Linked DNA regions of Homo sapiens. The protein of the gene in region 2 purifies or fractionates together with the protein of the main gene of each other region. This does not show direct contact. Each region holds a gene or a part of one and is shown on either strand. Other genes may lie near its edges.

Evidence for each region.
Region 1: the proteins of SLC19A3 (region 2) and WARS2 fractionate together in Homo sapiens (co-fractionation; one large-scale study listed by BioGRID). This does not show direct contact.
Region 3: the proteins of SLC19A3 (region 2) and CACNA2D1 purify together in Homo sapiens (affinity purification with mass spectrometry; one large-scale study listed by BioGRID and IntAct). This does not show direct contact.
Region 4: the proteins of SLC19A3 (region 2) and ATP11B purify together in Homo sapiens (affinity purification with mass spectrometry; one large-scale study listed by BioGRID and IntAct). This does not show direct contact.

Annotation. Positions count from the first base shown.
Region 1 is NC_000001.11:119,042,636-119,047,780, forward strand, and holds part of WARS2 (tryptophan--tRNA ligase, mitochondrial isoform 1 precursor), read right to left. Parts: intron 4,898-5,145; exon of another isoform or gene 4,770-4,897; intron 3,028-4,769; coding exon 2,947-3,027; intron 1-2,946. UniProt on the Homo sapiens protein: Catalyzes the attachment of tryptophan to tRNA(Trp) in a two-step reaction: tryptophan is first activated by ATP to form Trp-AMP and then transferred to the acceptor end of tRNA(Trp).
Region 2 is NC_000002.12:227,710,523-227,716,206, forward strand, and holds part of SLC19A3 (thiamine transporter 2), read right to left. Parts: intron 4,103-5,684; exon of another isoform or gene 3,927-4,102; intron 1-3,926. UniProt on the Homo sapiens protein: Mediates high affinity thiamine uptake, probably via a proton anti-port mechanism. Has no folate transport activity. Mediates H(+)-dependent pyridoxine transport.
Region 3 is NC_000007.14:81,967,760-81,972,904, forward strand, and holds part of CACNA2D1 (voltage-dependent calcium channel subunit alpha-2/delta-1 isoform 1 preproprotein), read right to left. Parts: intron 4,106-5,145; coding exon 4,018-4,105; intron 2,979-4,017; coding exon 2,916-2,978; intron 2,226-2,915; coding exon 2,122-2,225; intron 1,215-2,121; coding exon 1,128-1,214; intron 1-1,127. UniProt on the Homo sapiens protein: The alpha-2/delta subunit of voltage-dependent calcium channels regulates calcium current density and activation/inactivation kinetics of the calcium channel. Plays an important role in excitation-contraction coupling.
Region 4 is NC_000003.12:182,798,877-182,804,021, reverse strand, and holds part of ATP11B (phospholipid-transporting ATPase IF), read right to left. Parts: intron 1-5,145. UniProt on the Homo sapiens protein: Catalytic component of a P4-ATPase flippase complex which catalyzes the hydrolysis of ATP coupled to the transport of aminophospholipids, phosphatidylserines (PS) and phosphatidylethanolamines (PE), from the outer to the inner leaflet of intracellular membranes.

The DNA of each region.
Region 1 (5,145 bases), on a different chromosome or scaffold from region 2:
CATTTATTGGTTCCAAATCGGATAAATTCCAGATTTCACAGACAAGGCCACAAACCGTCATGAAATTAAATCTCTACAAATTAACATGAGTTAATATCAAAAGCCCTATTGTTTATACATGGAGACTTTCCAAAAAGTCTCACAGCATGCCACTGAGAAAACTGGAATGTTCCCTTAAAATCACATTTAAATAACAAAAAACAAAAAAGTCATGGCATTTAAAAAATAAAAGTAAGTGAGAGAAATATTCATCTAACCAATCCTAATGACCTGTCTTGATTCTTAGGTGATTAAGCATGCTGAAGCAGTGAGGGTCAAGTGACCCAATGAGCAGTACAGGTTGTATAGACCAAAACAGTTCCTTAATGGAGAAGTTGATGGAAACACCTGAGATGATGTTAGAAACATTTAATAACTGGGGGGGGCAATAGATGCTGATTATAAACTACTACTGTGTACTCACTAAACATGATCCTAATGATGCTAACTCCCTTGCTGTGGCTGCACATTGCTGACATGTCGTTTGATTCTCTGAGTAGAGCTACTTATTAGATGGCAATATTCTGTGCAGTTTCAAGGCCTAAGGTATAGCATCTCTTGTAAAATAAATGGATACTTTGGTGTGTAGACAAATCTTACTCATTGAGTTAATCTGAATCATTTCCCTCAAGTCTGATTATTTCCAAATGAACTGGGCAACTGAATTTATAAACTTGTTTTATTCCAGGGACCAAGCTCATGAGCTTACAAACTTGGGATACCCCTACCAAGGTGCAGACATATTTTTTAAGGCTCAGTCTGAAAATACAACAGCTTCTCTCCTTAGCCATCTTAATTTTGGTGTTTCATAATTTAGTTACAAACTTAACTTTTCTGAGTATACTTCAAGTGGTTTCTGGCTTATAGCAACCAATGCTCTAGGCCATTCAAAGGAAATTTCAATGTTTGAACATACAATTTCTTCACTACATCCCCTAATTACAAAGTTCATGATAAAGGCTAGTTCACAATTATCACCAGGTAAAGATAATGAAAGTTTAATTTGGAAACGTGCAAATTGAAGAAGAACCCAATTTTTAAAAGTTGCCATCACATTCAATTTATAGCCTTTTCGTATTAGCATAATGGACCTTGAAATTACAAGGGAGAGGGAAAATGTGGAGAGCATTAATATTTATTGAGTGCCTATTATGTGCTCCAGATGTTTTACATATATGTTACTCATTAATCCTCTAAATAACCCTGACCTCAGCAACCCTCACCCCACCCTTCTGTGCCACTATTCCACCTTTTGCTGTCCCAATGGAAACCAGGCTAGATGCCTTTATCAGATCCTCCTATAGCACTGGAATCCTGTACTCAGAGCACTTCTTACACTTTCTTATTACTTGTTTAATTGTCTTTTCCCAAACAGACTATAAGTCTCACGAAGGGGGTTACTTCTTATTGACTGCTATATCTCTAGCACCTATTATGACATAAGACTCACAGAAGATATCACTAGTATTTAATTAGTATTAATGAAGGAATCACCACAGAAGACAGTAACATATCTGAGGATAAGACTGGGATTTGAAATTCATGTATTTCCTACAAACAAGCAATTATATACTAATGGAAAGGCTTTTCCAGAATATCAGTACATGCACTAGTAATATACTAGCAGGAGATCTTTAGATGCTGTTTTAAAGTGGGAATAGTTCCTATTAGATTAGTATTCAGTTCCTATAAAAAGGATTTCAACATTACACTTAATGGTAGAATACTATGGTACAATGGGAAAGTATTGCCTAAAACCAAAATATGGCAGATAACATTATGAAACTTTGTTTCTAATTTGTGGCAAGTAATGAATCTGCAGCATTACTAGTACCATCTTATGTATTAAGTGTCTTAGTCCACTCAGGCTGCTATAACAAAATACCCAGCTAGGTGGCTTATAAACAACAGAAATTTATGTCTCATAGTTCTGGAGGCTGGGAAGTCCAAGATTAAGGCAAAGTCAGTGTCTGGTGAGGAACCTTGTTCATGGATAGTGACTTCTAGCTCTGTCCACAGATGCTGTCAGGAGCAAGCGGTGTCTCTAGGGCCTCTTTAACAAGAGCACTAATCTCACTCATGAGGGTCCCACCCTCAAGATCTAATCACCTCACAAAGGCCCTACCTCCTAATACCATCATCTTGGGAGTTAGGTTTCAACATATGAATTCTGAGGGAACACATTCAGACCATATCATTTAGGCACTGTCACTTTAAAGCTTTATCTATTTCTTTCTGTAGCATGTGTGAAGGCTTCTGAAGACCAGCTTTTGAGGAAACCAATGGCCCTGAAAATACCTCAAAAGAAGCTTGAAATTGAAATTAGTGTTGACGTAGTTGGGGGCTACCTACCCTGGGGTTATCCGACTGCAAAAATAAATGGAAGTAAAGTACTATGAATTATCCAATTTATCTTTCTTGGTTGAACTTCTTACAAAAAGTATAGCCCTAATTATTCTGTGAGTTTGAACTGTTGCCTGGACTCAACTTGTTTAAATGTTAAATAAAATATGTTGTCTCTTCTCTCCACAATGAAAACATTCTTTCCTTACTGCCAGTTAATTCCAGTGGAAATGGGAGGCAACCTCAGAGTCTAGTAATCTACAATCTGTGATTGTTTATTAACTATAATGTGGTTGTTCAAAGTCATTACCAAGTCTATCCAAAGGTAACTCTGATTCAACTGTACACAGATAAAAACAATGAACCTAATTTTTAAGTCAGGAGGAATCTTGGAAAATCCTTTTATTTTCCTTTTAATACCCTGAAGCAGGGAGGTTAAAGATGATGTTCCAACCATTAGTGAGTGGCAGACCAGGGAGGAGAGTAAACTCAGGATTCCCAGAGCCTAACAGGAAGGGAAAAATAGCTTCTTGTCTGTTTATTAATCAGATTACTGGCATTTACCTTCCACTGATGTAAATGTTGTAATCGAGGTAGTCTGACCATGCAGGAAAGGATCCAACTTAATTGTGTGTGTTCAGACACCTAAAGAAATAAAATAGAACATTAGTAAAGGTGGCCAGTGTTTTCTTGCATATAAGAAGAACTAAGTAGTAAGTATTACCCTAAATGTCTGAAAATACCCCAAATTAAGGTTATTATAAGAACAGGTGAAGGGGGCTTAGTTCTGATTCATGAAGCATAGACTCTTAGGTGAAGAAAAAAATCATACAAGCTAACTGATTTGGTTATTAATCTAGTGTTTAAGTCTACTCCACAATACCCCACCAGATTCTGCTTCAACATCTTCAGTGAGAAAGTTTCATGATGTCCTGAGGCATCTGTTCTATCTGTAAAAAGCCAAGCTTATTAAGAAGGCACACACACACTCTCTCTCTCTCTATCACACACTCACATACTCACACACACTCACACACTGGTTCCAAGCCTCTCTAAATAACTTCTAAATACATCAAAGCAGCTATAGTACTTTACATATAAGTGGTGGAAAAAGGTACTGGACTTAACATTAAAGATTGAATTCTTTAGATATAGGGTAACTTGAAAGTTAGAGATCACTTTATCATTCCATCACCCCAAAAGGTATTTTTATAGTTTCTACTTCCTCCTCTCCCTCCTCTTTTTCATCTTCCTCTCCTCCTTTTCTGTTTTTTTTTTTTTTTTTTTTTTTTAAGAAGAAGTCTAATCAGCAAGAAAATATAAACTTTCCCCAATTTTTTTTTTTTTTTGAGACAGAGTCTCACTCTGTCGCCCAGGCTGCAGTGCAGTGGTGTGATCTCAGTTCACAGCAACCTCCGACTCCCAGGTTCAAGCAATTCTCTGCCTCAGCCTCCTGAGTAGCTGGGATTACAAGTACCTGTCACCACATCCGGCTAATTTTTTTTTTTTTTTGTCTTTTTAGGAAAGACAGGGTTTCACCATCTTGACCAGACTTGTCTTGAACTCCTGACCTCGTGATCCACCCACCCCAGCGTCCCAAAGTGCTGGAGTTACAGGCGTGAGCCACTGCGCCCAGCCCCAAATTTGTTTGTTTCAACCAAATTTAATCAAGCTACCAAACCTGATGACCTAGAATTTAAGGCCTATGCATCCCGTTTCTTTACTCTGGGGATTACAAGCCCTTCATCAACTGTGGCTTTTTTTTTTTTTTTCATCCACATGATTTCCTTAAAAAGCAGAGACTGCTGCCAACTCTGAAAAGTGGCCCCAAATGTGTTCTTTGTGGGTTTTGCAAAAAGAACATAAAGGAGTGGAGCTGAATCAGCCCAGGCCTGTTCTACTAACAAGGAATCGCCATCTGTTGTAAGATAGTTTCTCATTTTTTTCCTCAAGTTATAGAGAGGGAAGAGTTGTTTTTCACGTGTTTGATAAGGAATCACTTTTAAAGTTTTGCAAGTCCCTGGGCTGAATCTGTCATCTTTCTTCCAAGAGGCATTTGGGTTTCATTCAGGGCAGTGACATTGACACACTGTCCATGCAAATTGCTAACTGCTGCTGTAAACAAATAGCTATCAGACAAAAACAGAAACTAACCCTGGATGTAGGCAAGAGGACTAGAGTTGCTTCCAATCACCAAGGAAAATACATTCCCATTAGAAGTAATAAAACAAGAGCTGTTTTTCTGGCATGAAGAAGTAGGAGAGAATTTTTTTTTTCTTCTTTACTGAATTGGAAGAAAGGAATGAAAACACAGATAATAACCATGGATATGTGGAAGGAGACAAGATGACGCCTCTTTAACTCTGATTCAAATGCTTAGCTTTGGTGATACGCAAAAAGCTACCACTATGTCTCCACGAAGCTGAGTATTTTCCTTGGAGTAGCTTTTTATTTGGACATATGGAATGAAACTTACTTAATATTCTGCAGAGATCTTCCTGGTGTTTCCAAAATGGTGAGCATAAAATTAATTCAAATTATCTTCATACAGAAAAAGTAGGTAAAAGGTCAATGGCAATTAATTTTTTACAATTCATTTTTAATAATTATATAAGAAGGGTAGGATACTTCAGGATTTGGTTGTCTTACTTCATTCATATTCATGACAATTGCATGGAAAGGTTCAGAGTTCCACTTGGGAGAAAAAGGAAAAATGGTATCTAAATATAATATTTTATCATTTATGCTGTGAAACCAAAAACA
Region 2 (5,684 bases):
CGGTCTGTACTAAAAATATAAAAATTAGCCAGTTCAAGACCCGCCTGGGCAACATAGAGACCCCATCTCTTTAAATATTAAAAAAAAGAAAAACGAATCTTACAGAGCATGATCTTCAGCTCCTTCCCCCCCAGTTTTTAGACTATCTATGGACCCCACTCCAAGCTATCTTATTAGCATAAACACGTTATCAAAGAGGGTCATTATGAATAAAAAGACACCTGTTACTCAGGAATTCCCAAAAGTTTTAGCTTAAAGACCAAATACATTTTATGTTATATCAGTTACAGTTTCCAAAAAGCCCACCTCCCAGGCTTTCAACACTGCTAGAGTCAAGCCCTTCCCTAGACAGAGCAAACTCAAAGTCTGATTACTAAAAACAAAAATATTTGCTTTTAGCTGACATATCAGAGCAGACAAACTAATTATGCCTTTTAATCTGCTTATTACTAAAATAGAAGAGAATATAACTTTCAGTAAAACATTCAAATAAAGCAAAGGGCTGCAGTCAGCTTAAGTCAGGGCAAGATGGTCCTGAAGGAAGGCAGGGGAAAGGATTCCAGGGTCTTGCTTAACCACCGTCGTTCTGCTGCAGTCAGAATTAGTGGGTGGTGGCCAGGCGCGGTGGCTCCCGCCTTTAATCCCAGCATTTTGGGAGGCTGAGACAGGCAGATCACCTCAGGTCAGGAGTTCGAGACCAGCCTGGCCAAAATGGTGAAACCCCGTCTCTAATACAAATACAAAAGAATTAGCTGGGCATGGTGGTGGGTTCCTATACTCCCAGCTACTTGGGAGGCTGAGGCACAAGAATCTCTTGAACCCAGGAGGTGGAGGCTGCAGTAAGCCAAGATAGTGCCACTGCATTGTGGCCTGGGTGACAGAGCGAGACTCTGTCTCAAAAAAATAAAATAAAATAAAATAAAATAAAATAATAAAATAAAATAAAAATTGGAAGGTGGTTCCACCAACTTCTAGGGAGTTATTGTATTCTGGCTGTAACTTCATCTTACTTGAAATGCATCTTACTGATCACTGCCTCACTCCATACACAAAAACTAATTTGACATAACAAATACTAACACCACAGCATGCCATCCAGAAGGAAACAGATCTTCGTTACCTAGGGACTGGCACATATTTGAAATAATAAAAAGAATCTTAAAAGAAAAAAAAGATAAATTGCATTTCATCAAAAAGCCACATCTGCTTATCAAGAGGTACTGTTAAGAAACTGAATGGAAAGGAGGCTGGGCACCGTGGCTCATGCCTATAGTCCCAGCATTTTGGGAGGCCGAGGTAGGTGGATTACTTGAGGTCAGGAGTTTGAGACCATCCTGGCCAACATGGCGAAACCCCGTCTCTACTAAAAATACAAAAATTACCCAGGCGTGGTGGCACAAGCCTGTAATCCCAGCTACTCGGGAGGCTGAGGTAGAAGAATCGCTTGAACCCAGGAGGTGGAGGTTGTAGTGAGCCGAGATCCCGCTATTGCACTCCAGCCTGGGCGACAGAATGAAACTCTGTCTCCAAAAAAAAAAAAAAAAAAAAAAAAAAAGCCACATCTGCTTCTCAAGAGGTACTGTTAAGAAACTGGCAAGGGACCAGGTGCAGTGGCTCACGACTGTAATCCCAGCACTTTGGGAAGCTGAAGCAGGAGGGTCACTTGAGCCTGGGAGTTCAAGACCAGCCTGGACAACACCTTTTTTTGTCTGTACAAAAAAATACCACACACAGACACACACACACAAAGGCAAAGAAATTAGAAAGGGAAGCCACAGACTGAAGAGAAAATAGTCTTAAAAGCAATATCTGATAAAAGAATTGTCTCCAAAATAAAGAACCCCTGTAACTCAATAAGAATAGATGAACAAAAGATTTAAATACTTTGCAAAAGATGTGGTTGGCCAAGAGCACATGCAAAGATACTCAACATAAGTAATCAGAAATCCTAAGTTAAGACTAGGAGAGAAAACTAGCACTAGAATGGCTACAGAGGCCAGCATACCAAATGTTGGCAAAGATTTACAGCAAGTGAATCCATATACATTGCTTGTTCGAATGTAAAATGGCACCAACCCTTTGGAAAATCATTTGGCAATCTATCCAAGAATGTTCATATATTTATATTTGTGAAAAAATGAGAAGCAACTAAATGTCCATTAAATGGGGAATGAATAAATAATGATAAATTTTGGCAACCAATACTAATTAGCAATAAAAAGGAGTGAACTACTGCAAATACGTGAATGAACATAAAAAGAAAAATTTGCTGTGCCAAGGAATCCAGACACAAAAAAATGTATGATTTCATTAACATATAAAGTCCTAAAACAAGCAAAACTTATCTGTAGTGATGGAAATCGGATTGGTGGTTGCCTGGGGTGGGAGGTAGGGAAGAGAGTGACTGCAATAGAGCGCAGGGGAACTTCCTGGGGTGACCAAAACACTCTACACCTTGATTGTGGTGATGATTACAAACATTTGTCCAAACTCATGCATTCATACTATACACTTATAATATACATTTTCTTATTTGTAAACCACACTGCTAGGGTTTGAATATCTGTCCTCTTCAAAACTCATGTTAAATCTTAATCCCAGGCTGGGTGCAGTGGCTCACACCTATAATCCCAGCACTTTGAGAGGCTGAGGCAGGATTGCTTGAGGCCGGGAGTTCAAGATCAGACTGGTCAAGATAGCAAGAACACGGTTCTACAAAAAAATTAAGTAAATGACTGGGCATGGTGGTATATGCCTGTAGTCCTAGCTACTGAGAAGCTGAGGCAGGAAAATCCCTTGAGCCCAGGATATCAAGGCTGCAGTGAGCCATGATTGCACCATTGCATTCCAGGTTGGGCTGGACAGTGAGACCCTGTTGTAAAAAAAAAAAAAAAAAAAAAAGAGGGGGTGGGGCTTTTCAAGAGTGATTAGATCATAAGGGCTCTGTGCTCATGAATGAATTAGCTCATTCATGAATTAATGGAGTCAAAGGTTAATGTATTAATGGGTCATCATGGGAGGGGAACTGGTGGTTTTCTAAGAGAAAGCCCTGAGCTTGCAGCCTTAGCCCTCTGACCATGTGATACCTGCGCCACCTTGGGATTCTTTAGAGTCCATATTAGAAAGAAGTGCCCCCTAAACCTTGGACTTCCCAGCCTCCATAACTGTAAGAAATAAAGCTCTTTTCTTTCTAAATTTCCCACGTTCAGGTATTGTTATAAGCAACAGAAAACAGATTAAGAAAAAAAAGATGTACTTCAACAAAGATGATTTGAAAAAAAAACAACAAAACAAATCACTGATACACGGAAGAAAATAAAGCAGTCTCAAACATTATCCTGTGTACAAGAATCCAGATACAAAAAGGACATAGCATGAAGATTTCATTTACGCCAGGTCCAAAACAACCGAAACTACTTCATGCTGATAGAAATCACAACTACGGTCATCTTGGAGGTGGGGGTGGGTAAGAATTGATGGTAAAAGGGCAGGAGGCAATTTTCTGGGTTGATGAAATATCCTATATCTTGATGGGATATAGTTATGTGGGTGTATACAATTATAAACACTTAAAATCTTTGTTTGTATGTAGATTATACCTCAACTTAAAGAAATGCATCCTATTCTCCCTCCTCCAAAGCATTTTACTGTGTACAACTCTCTGTAGCTCTGGACTTTTCTAGGGGTGCAATGACTATTTTAAATTTAAAGTCCACATCAGGGCAAGGCCTCCGTATAATAGGAAAACTGAACAGGATCTTTGAAACTGAGTCTGTCCCAGAACATTTCTGATGAAAACAGTGCCCGTAACGCAAAGCTAGGACAGGGCAATAAACCTTGTAAGTCTGGCCACATATAACATTTTTCAGTTAATACAGATAGAATCTGAATCTCAGAAGCTGAGGCAGGAGGATCCCTTGAGTTACCTGTTTTTTTCTGTGCCCCCAGTTTCTTTCTTTCTAGAACCAAGCTGGCTTCCTGCCTTCAGGTCCAACTTCTGCTCCTTCCTGCTGCCCGCCACTATGAAAATCCCTTTCCATACCCTGGAGTCTCTTGTCCTCCTCCTTCAGACAGAGCTGCCAAGAGCAATAGCTTTATACGCAGAAGCCCATCCACTTCTGGTGGCTTTATGTACTGGGGCCCACCCTCTTCTGCAGCCGATGACATTTGAAATCCCATCCAAAAAAAAAAAAAAAAAAAAGCAGACACCCAGATCCAGATCTTTCTGAAATACAAGTGATTAGAGAGATAAATACATGAATAACACCTTTCCCTGACTATTCTTTTTTTTTTTTTTTTTTTTTTTGAGACAGAGTCTCCCTCTGTCACCCAGGCTGGAGTCTGGAGTGTAGTGGCACAATCTCCCCACTCACCGCAACCACTGCCTCCTGGGTTCAAGCGATTCTCCCACCTCAGTCTCCTGAGTAGCTGAGACCACAGGCACCCGCCACCAGGCCTGGCTAATTTTTGTATTTTTAGTAGAGACAGGGTTTTGCCTTGTTGGTCAGGCTGGTTTTGAACTCCTGACCTCAAGTGCTCCACCCGCCTCAGCCACTCAAAGTGCTGGGATTACAGGTGTGAGCCGCCGTGCCTGGCCTTGCCCTGACTATTCTTACTAAAGTCACCTAATTTAGCTTCTATAGAATTTTGTGCTAAGTGACCTAGACTCTCAAAAAACTACAAAGTAGCCTTATCACCCATCTATAATCCTTTATGTCAAACCCCACACCCCCCCCAAAAAAAAATCTTTGCTGAAATAAAGCATGCCACACAACTTCCAAAGACGTAAACTAGACCCAGATATTCAGTATGTGGGCCAGAATAGTTCTGTTGTTTGTTTTTGTAAGAGCAGAAACAAGTGATATTTTTAAAATTTTATTTTTAGTAAAGATGGGGCTTTGCCATGTTGGCCAGGCTACTCTTGAACTCCTGGCCTCAAGAAATCCGCCTGCCTTGGCCTCCCAAAGTGCTGGGATTACAGGTGTGAGCCACCGCACCCAGCCCAAGTGATCTTTAAGATGCTTCAGATTTTATTTTATCATATATGGTACCATTCCTTTTAATTTGCATGAGGTGTTTGCTGGTAAATTAATCATTTCCTTCCAAATTCTGTTTATTCTGTTATGTCTATGTTCAGATCAATCTAGTCTTAGGGAGAGCAGGAGGAATATGCCTAAGAAAACCATAAAACTAAGAAAAACATAAAACGGCTTAGAAAGTCAACTGAGCCCAGCCTGGGCAAAATAGCGAGACCTCACCTCTATAAAAAATACAAAAATTAGCTAGGCATGGTGGTGTGTGCCTATAGTGCCAGGTAGTTGGGAGACTGAAGTGGGAAGATTGCTTGAACAGGGAAAGTCAAGGCTGCGGTGAGCCGAGATCCCAGCCACTGCACTCCAGCCTGGGCAACAAGAGCGAGACTCCGTCTCAAAAAAAAAAAAAAAAAAAAAAAATTTCAAAAACCCCAAACAAAACAAAACAAAAAAGGAAAGTCAGCTGACATCTAATCCTTGAGATGCAGTGAAAGTTTCTGATTAAATGCACTGAGAGAAGGTGGTGTTGTAGGGAAAAAACTGGATTAAAGAAAAATTAGAGGTCATTTGAGCTATTTTACAACTCTGTAAATTTTAACAACTGATGGCAATGTTAAGTAATTATTGTCTATAGACATGCAAATAAGGTTT
Region 3 (5,145 bases), on a different chromosome or scaffold from region 2:
TTTATTACAGAAGTTTTAGTTTTGTGTTCATTAAGAAATAATGCTAATAGCTCTTAAACTATTACATAAATTGTAACATATTCACAAAAGAGTGTATTCATTAGCCACAACCTGACCAATTAACTAATACAATAAGCTAAATAAAAAACAGTAGTGTCAGGAGAGCCTCATAAACTTGAGGTCATTCAAACGGTATATTTTAAGATGTTTCCCTAACCCCACCAGTGCTTGCAGTAGGTGCTTAATAAATCTTTGCTGAAAGAGTGAACAGATGAATGGATGAGTAGGTGGGTTAGTAGGAGAGTGGGTGAATAAATGAATGGCTGAGAGAATAACTGATTTAGTAAGTAATTGAGCAATTGAGTGAATGAAGGAATAGGTAAGTGAGTTAGTGAGTAAGTGATGGAGTGAATTCATGTAATAGATCCGCTGATGGGGTAAAGCTGTCCTCAGGAGCAGGAAGGCTCAAAATACTCTCCTTTAAAACTTCAAACACTGAATCATACAATCAAAAAAACTAATAGCTTTTACTTTATTGTATTCACTCACTCTAGCCCACTTCCGATCCTCATTAATGCTCACTTTTACTATGTTTGTTTACTTGCCTATTTTTCCAAAAAGTCATTTTTCTATATATTTTATAGCAAGTTTTTAACTGAGCCCTACCTAATTCACTTTAACAGACGCCTACTAGAATATAGTATAAATATGCCATATTTATCTTTTCCCTCAGGGCTGGAAACTTAACTTTTTTGTACAAATATGTAACTCCTTGGCCATATAACTTTGTACGTATTTTAAAGTATTAAGAGAGACTTCTGGAGGTGGGTTGCTAATCCAACATTAAAAATTTTGATTATTATACTAAATTGATTCCATCAATTTGTGTCAGAGTATAAACATACACACTGTTTTGAAAATTCCTCAAATCTATGTAGTATCAATTTGATTTTATCCCAACTTCAGAGGTAACTAGTCATATTTTATTTAATTTTTTTAAGTGTGCATGCCTTTATTTTGTTTGACACCTTTTGATGACCTTCTTGATAAACATTGCCAGTTTATAATATAAATGCCAAGTAACATTTAATTTTGATTGTGTTTTTGTATTTAATATTTATCCTTACCTGCAGGTTTAAGAAGTTTCCCTTGAATATATATTTCTACAGCTTTGCTTACCATAATGCCCGATTCATAGGCACCAGGTCCACTTTCTAAAAAAAAAATAAATAAATAAAACACCTATCAAGATATATTGAATAATAATATTGATTTTCCGTCATTAGATACAAATGGATAGTATTTTGCTTAAAAATTCTAGCATCTACAAACTATAAAATGTTTGTGCTCTCCTTCCTCTCTTCTTCCGTTGTATACACTAGGCTAACTGGTATATCCATGAATTGGTTTGTATTAATTGATTCGGGGACATTAATTAGCTTGGTTGCATCTGCTTTCACAACATAATGAATACATGCCAAATCTCTACTTCACAACATTTGTTAAAATATTAAGTAGTTCTGCTGAAGTGAAGTGGAAAGATTGATCCTGGATGCATAAAACTGACTTTGTCTTTTATAAGACGTATGTCACTGGGCAAAACTTTGAAATTCTCTGAACTTGTTTCCCCATTTAGGAAAATGAAGGTAAATACTACCTATGTGCAAAGATGTTCAGGGATTAAATTACAAGGTTTTTGGGAAATAAGTCAATAAAATATTTTAAAAGATAAGCTATTATTAATTGTATAATTATATTTTATAATACTGATAAAATGTAATTAATCAATGGAATTACTCTATTTAATTCCTTAAATGTTTTTCAATACATTTTCAGTTGTAATATGAGGGATTATCTACATGTGTTTCTATTTCTTATGCATGCCTAACAGATATGCTATCTCTAAATTACTGGAAGACTGTTTGCTGTGTATGCATTTTGCTTCTTCAACTAAATGATGTTTCTTTTCTATTTTCCTAATGCCTTGCAAATACTCTATTTTTAATGATGACTATTCTGAGTAGTTAACATAAAATGTAGTGATTTGGGGGGAGAGCAGATAGTAGCAGTAATTTATTATTTAAAAAATTGAGAAAAGCTGAATTCCAAAGCAATACTTACTGTTAAAGTAGGGAGCAGTGAAAACATAGTTATCATTATCTAGGCTCCTTTTATAGAAGCTGTCCTCATATGTCTCTGGGTTTTCTTGCCAATTTTCTCCAGCCCTAAGGAGGAAATGGCTCATCATTTGTATTCTTTAATCTACCTGATAACCTACTTTATCCTATGTGGACTTGCTGAGCTTTACAGATACGCCTACATCTCAGGTATGTCTAAAGAAGTTAGTGGTAATTGATAGCATAACTGATACTCATTACTGAGCAATGCATCAGCATAGCACTAAATTAAGAATCAGAAAAAGCTAACTCCTAGTTTTACTCCGTTGTTTACTAGTCAGGTAACAGGACAAGTAAGTTAATAGGTCAATTAATGTTAGTAAGCATTGGTGCCTACTCAGCCTACTTCATGGACTGTTACGAAGATAATAGAGATAAGATGCATCAAAGAAGAGTGAAAGATAATAAAGTGCTACATAAATATTGCTGATTGGTTATAATCATTGTGTTCATTTCACTGGTTTAGCTTGTATCTACAAAGAGAAAAATCTCTTTAAACGTCTCTTAAATGTTGTAATAAACATATTTGGCAAGCAAAAACATCATTGAAGAATTTTATAATGTCATTTTTCAGAGAAATAAAATCTTTTAATAATGTAAATACTGTAAACAATGGCTCCAATGTAATCTAATGGCAATCAGTTTATTTGAAGAATGGCTTCCTTAAGCAGTAATGTACAAATCCTTGGCGCAGTCTTTTGTAATGTACTTGTTTTTACAGATGTTATTTGAACTTACTCTTTGGGATAAACTCTGGTAATCCCACCATCAGTCACAACAAATCGTGCTTTCACTCCCTTGCTGAAACAGAAGACAAAACAAGGAAATGTTCTATTGAACATATTCTAAAAAACAAAGTTAGGTGTTGGTGATACAAAGAGAAGTAAGTTTAGGAAGTAAAGGAAATATATCAATAGATACACAACTATGTTTTAATAATTTAAATATCTATTAAATTTGTACTTGAAGGATGTTTAAGGAAGACATCTCATAGGAAATAATGACTGAGGTGCATTTTGAACATGGAGTATGAATTGACAGCAATGACACAGAAAGCAGGAAGGTATCACTTGTAGAGAGGAATGTATACATAAGGGAAAGCTACCAGAGATGGCTGGTGTTTGGTATAGAAAAAAAACGTAAGACAAAAGGAGAGAAACAGTAAGAAGTAAAGTTTCAAGTGCAAGTTCCTCAATGGTCAGCTAATGAATGATTTTGAATTCCATCTTAGAGAGCTTCACCTGTATCTTGAACTTAGAACTGCATTTTAGGAGTTAGATTCTGGCCAATATGAGTTGTATGGAGAATTGTCTAGAAGCTGCATGTGGAGGAATGGAGAACACTAAAGGCAGAAAAATCAGTTGCTGTGATTTCTTAGAAATGGGATCTTAGGGCCTTCATTATGAGGTAGAGAAGAAAACATTGCTAGGAGAAATATTTAGCATTTAGTGACTGAAAATGGGGTGGAGAAGAGATTTTAAATAAGAATCATACTCAGATTTTCTCAACTGGATGTATGGTAATGCTATTAGAAACCCAAATAAACACTGACTAGAAATCCTACTTTAGCACAAACAGAAACACACAATCATGCCCATTTAATTTGGTGTATTCACCCTGAAGTGTATGTGCATGAAAAGTTGAGTAATAGCAGACATTAGTACTGAAAAACACCCACAACTGAAAATGCAAGTTGTCAACAACTGTATAGTGATTTTCTTGAGAAATATTAAACATTATTAATGAACTGTAAATTTATGAGATTCATACCCAATTTCCACAGGAGAAACTAAATTGAAATGCAGAATACATATTTTTATTAATAAGAACAAATACTTACATATTTTTCTGCTTACTCCAGTAATTTTGGACAAGTTCATTTGTAAAGCCTGCATCAAGCAAGACTCTATTAATCAAATCCGCGTTACCTAACACAGAAAAAGATCATCAGTTACACTCACATTTCTAAAATTATGATCATAATGAAAAATATATTTTCTATTTCCAAAAGCAATTTAGAGTAGATATTTCTATGAATTTTAAAATATATTCCACATTCATTTTCTTTGTAATTTTAATATTGTTCATCTTGCCTCACAGTTTTTCAGGAAATGAATGGATTTAGTAGTAGAAAAATCAATTCTAAATGAGCCAAATTATTTTGTAAACTTTATCAAAATAAGAAATAAGCTATGTTAAGAAACAGGAAATAGTCCTTCTTTTGTGTTTTTGTTTATTTCTGTATGGTAGCATGGCGATTCCCAACCATCATAATTTTATGACAATTTAATGTATACACACATAAAATTTTATATATGTATATAAAATTTATATATATAGAAACAGAACTACCACTGAAATTATCAAGTAAAAACATTCAACAAAAAGTTACTGTCTACTTTCACTTTCATTTGTTATAAGAAAAGCTATTTTCATTCTTTTCTATCACAAATATCAAAACATAGGATAATCTTGGAGTAAATAAGACTATGAAAAATTCAGTGCCGCATATCGAGGAGCAAGGAATGGAATGAGCATCACAGAGCAGTACAATCCCAAGAATGTTTTTGAAATCTACTGGTATTGGTCAAAGAACCAATACCTAAGTAGATAATAGGTTGTCATTTCTAGAATAACTGAAGTGCATATTAGCCCAAGTTTAAAGATAATTGAGGAAACAGGTGATGAGGATCAAAGGCCAATTATTATGTATTCTTAAACAAAAACCTCTGCCTTCTTCCCATTCTCCTTGTTCCTCTAAACCCATTAAGCTCTGAAATACCCTAACAGGTACCCTCTGAAATTGCACATTTACGACAAAATTTGACTTTTTCAGATAAAGAATATATGTTCTTAACATCCTATTACTATACAACATGGTGGTGAGATAGGCTGGAAACATTTTTGTTGCTTTTAATTATTTTAAGTTAATATATCTTACACCTGGGATTAAAGGATCAATGTAATC
Region 4 (5,145 bases), on a different chromosome or scaffold from region 2:
ATAAAGTTCAGTATAATTGTAAAAAGAAAAAAAAAGAAGGTGGGGGTTCTGCCTGCCAAATACCAAGACTTATCATTAAAATACTATAATTAAGACAGAGCATTATTTGTGCACCAAGAAATGAATGAAATGGAATACAGAATCTAGAATGAGACCAAGGTATATGAAAGAGAATGCTGGTATATGACAGAGTATGTGAAAGAGAATGCTGGTACGTGTCCTAAATGTGTCACTTATGACAGAGAAGGCAAACAACACAGACTCGTGGAGGAAGGATGCCTCATTCAATAAACAGCATTGACACAACTTTCTATACGGGAGAAAACAAATTCCCTTCCTTATTCCATATACAAAAATTGATTCCAGGTATCTTTAAAGATCTAAATGTTAAAAAACTAATTTTAAAACAATTTGAAGAAAACGCTGGAAAAACAGCTTTATGATCCTAGTATAACAAAGGAATTGTCAAATATGTAATAAAAAGCAGAAATCATATGTCTAATAAATTTACCTACAAATAAATTTAAACTTTCTGTATAAAAAAAGATACCATAAACTAAATTAAATACACGGAACAGACTAGAAGATATTTACAACATATACAACAAAGAATTGGCATCCAGGCTATAGCAAGAATTAGGAAAGGCCAAACTACCCAATGGAAAACGGGCAATCTATTCATGTGAATGAAATTGAGGATACCTGCATCTCACCAGCAATCAAGAAAATGCAAATTAGAACAAAATGAGACACTATTTCACACCCATCAGACTGGTACGTTTTTTCAAGTCTGACAGTACAAAGTGTTGAGCAAGATGTAGGGAAAGGAGAACTCTGTTTTAGAAAATACTTTGGCAATATTTAGTAACAGTCATAATGTACGTGACCCATGACCCAGCAATTCCACTTCTGGGTATTTAACTTCAAAATAAATAAATAAATAAACAATAATAGTCATTGTAACACTTTTTGTAACAGGAAAAAATTGGCAACAATCCGAATATACATTAGAAAAAAAGAACCCCCCATAAGATTGGCTGGGGCAGGGATTACTTCATTTTGGTAGTTCCAAAGCCTAGCAACAAATATGCTATCACAGAAAACTAATTCACTTACAGAAAATGACTCAATTCATCAATACATGAGAAAGAAATGGTGTCACCTAAAAGGGGATGCAGAGTTGAGAAATGGCTTTTGTTAAATGGAGAACAAAACTAAAGCAGACAAAATCCCTTCCTTCCTGAGATAAATGAGACTAGCAAGTTTTGGAGTAGGTTAAATAGCATTAAGTGCTGAGAAATCAAGCAAGGAAAGGCAACAGGGAAGTAATGGGGAGGGTCAGAACATTATACTGAATGGCTGGAAAAAGCTTCACTCATGAATAACGCAATATTTGAATAAAGACTTGAAAGGAGCGAAGGAGCCAGCAGATGTCTGCAGGAAGAACATTCCAGGTAGAGGTAGTAACAGTCAGGACAAAGCTCCTAAAACTGAAGTATGCCTGGGACTTCTGAATTGCAATAAGGCTAGTGTGAATAAAGAGTGAGAGAATAGTGATGGAGGATGAGAAATGGATTGGAAGAAGTGTAGGGGTTGGCATACAGATCAAGCAGAGACTTTGGCTTTTACTCTGAACAAAAGAGCAAGCACTTGGAAAATCTTAGGCAGAGGAATTATATGATCTAACCTGTTTAATAAGATCACTCTGGTGGGTATATTGAAAACAGACTGCAAGGACAGAAGGGGAGAAACAATGAGATGAACTAGGAAGCTTTTGCAATAATCTAGGTAAGAGGTAGCAGTAGTTTAGTTGAGGGTGGTGGCAGAGAAAGACGAGAGAAATGGTTCTGGATATATCATTTTTAGCAACAACAAAAAGGGAGATACGATTTGCTCCCCAAACACTTAGATGTATTCATGTTATAAGTAAAACACTTTTTAAAATGCATTTTTTAAAAAATTGACAAAAATTCTGTATATTTATGGTGCACAACATGATGTTTTGAAGCAAAGCATTTTTTGATTCATGTGTCTTTCTTTGATTTCTTCTCCCCACAGAGGTATCCATAGAAAAAGAGCAGTTGACTTTTAAAGAACTACATCTCCTGCTTAGAATTTGACAGATTCTTAGTAAATTTATTAGCAATACATATTATGCATGTACCTTTTATTATTAATATAACTGAATTAAATCAAGAGTTAAGGGGAGAGTTTTACATTAACTTATATTAATAATCACTGATGTAACTGACATAAAATAAAATTTCTACACTTGTAAAAATAAGAATTTGAGAATGGAAGGAAAGGAAGAAGCGATTTTGGAGATAAATACAGAAATATTTATGGGTAAAATTATATAATGTCTGGGATTTGCTTCAAAATCACTAAAGGGAGTGAGGATAGTGGGTGGGGGGAATAGATAAAACAAGATTGGTCATGTGCCGATAACTGTAAAAGTTGGGTAAAGGATAAATTATACCATTTGCCCAACTTTATACCATAAAGGGGCTCATTATACCATTATCTCTACTTTTGCAGGTGATTGAAATTTTCTATAACATAATGCTTAAAGAAAGAATAAAAATAACCTGTACCAGCTTTACCGGCTTCACACAGTAAGAATAAGCTACATATATACAACATCTGTTTCTGTTCCTAACTTTTCCAAAATGTACGTGAATGAATGAATGATTGATACCTATGCATATCATCCTATTCTTCCTCCTTTCCTGAGGGGGAACTTCACTTCCAATTAAAATGTGGAGACAGACACAGCTTAACTAATTAATATCCTTAATTTGGTATTTCATCTAAATTTTGGACAATCTAATAGTTTTAAAGAGAAACAAGTATGATTATCTGCATAAGCCATAACTTAATGTTAAGGAGGATAAACTACATGCTAAAAATTTCAAAGGAAGGCCTGGTGGGATGGGTCACACCTGTAATCCCAGCACTCTGGGAGGCCGAAGTGGATTGATCATCTGAGGTCCAGGGTTCGAGACTGGCCTGGCCAACATGGCGAAACCCTGTCTCTACTAACAATACGAAAAAATCCGTTGGGCATGGTGGGACGTGCCTGTAATCCCAGCTACTCAGGAGGCTGAGGCAGGAGAATCACCTGAATCTGGGCGGGGCTGGGGGGGGTGGGGGGCGGAGGTTGCAGTGAGCGGAGATCGCGCCACTGCACTCTAGCCTGGGTGACAAAGCGAGACTGTCTTAAAAAAAAAAAAAAATCAAAAGAATTTGCCAATACCATGTATAGGATAAGAAAATACGAAAATTAAAAATTGTACAATTTTAAGTGAGCCAGTCAGCAAAAAAATTTGTGTTCTAGTTTTCTCCTAAGCACACCCAAGAGTCAAACAGTTCCCTCAGAGCCATTCCCAAGTGCTGAGAAGTAACAGAAATTCAATGCATGTCATTCACAATACAGGTGAATGTTTACTGAATGCATTATAACCATATATGCAAAAAAATTAAATACAAACATCGTCTGGGCACAGTGGCTCACACCTGTAATCTCAGCACTTTGGGAGGCTGAGACAGGAGGATCGCTTGAGTCCAGGAGTCTGAGACCAGCCTGGGAAACATAGTGAGACCCCCACCTCTACAATTTTTTTTTTTTTTTAATTAGCTGGGTGTGGTGGCAAATGCCTGAAGTCTTAGCTACTCAGGAGGCTGAGGCAGGAGGATCATTTGAGCCCAGGAGTTTGGGGTTGCAGTGAGCTGTGATCACATCACTGCAGTACAGCCTGGGAGACAAAGTGAGGCCTTATCTCAAAAAAAAAATTATATATATAATTTCTAACTTGAAGTATTGGCTTAAAAATAAGTCTCATAGTATTTCCCATATAAATATCCAATCAAGAATGTTTTTGTTTCTTTCTTTTTTTTAATTTTTATTTTTTAGAGACAGGGTCTTACTCTGTCATCCAGGCTGGAATGTACTGGCACAATCATAGCTCACTGCCGCCTTGAACTCCTGTGTTCAAGCAATACTCCTGCCTCAGTCTCCCAAGTAGCTGGGACTAAAGGCAGGCACCGCCATGCCCAGCTAATTTTTAATTTTTGTAGACACAGGGTCTCACTATGTTGCCCAATCTGGCCTTAAACTCCTGGCCCAAAGCAATCCTCCTGTGTGTCTCCCAAAGTGCCGAGGTTACAGGTTTGAGCCACCACACCTGGCCTAGAATGTTTTTCTTATACTAAATTTTATAACAGAGAAACTCCAGGAAAAAAAGCAAAATAAAGAATATCTGAGAATAAAATCTTTCAACTATGTTTATAAACTCAAATCTTGAGTTTCATTTTGATATTTTTTAAAAAATACACGTTTACTTCCTTTTGAGAATAAAAAAATTAAAATTAAACAATAAAAATGCACATTTCTAGTAAAAACTAAGCTAATTATGAATATTATCTTGCTTAGAATGATCAGCACTCGGGCCGGGCATGGTGGCTGACGCCTGTAATCCCAGCACTTCCGGAGGCCGAGGCGGGCGGATCATGAGGTCAGGAGATCGAGACCATCCTGGTAACACGGAGAAACCCCATCTCTACTAAAAATACAAAAAATTAGCTGGGCGTGGTGGTGGGCGCCTGTAGTCCCAGCTACTCCGGAGGCTGAGGCAGGAGAATGGTGGGAACCCAGGAGGCGAACTTGCAGTGAGCTGAGATCGCGCAACTGCACTCCGCCTGGGCGAAAGAGCGAAACTGTCTCCAAAAAAAAAAAAAAAAGAAAGAAAGAAAGATCAGCACTCAGACAACTGCAGAAACAAAATGAAGAATAAACAGCATGGCTAAATCTAGAACCCCACAGCAGTCGATGTTGACTTGATAAATTATTTCCAAGGGACCAGATGCAGTTAGTCTATCAGGCAGCTTCTAGTCTCTTAGATATAATGCAGACCAACACTCTGAAAATAGAAAACTCACAGAAAAAAAGCCTGGGTAAAGTCATAAAGTCCTTAGAATCAAAAACTTTCTTGAATCTGCCTATGCCAGGCATTATATATTGTTACCATAATCTAAAACAATGCTGTAGAACAGAAATATGGCCTAAGCCACATATGTTAATTTTCTTAGTTTCCACATTTAAAAAAAGGTAAAAATAAACAAGTAGCATTTAATATTTAACCAAAT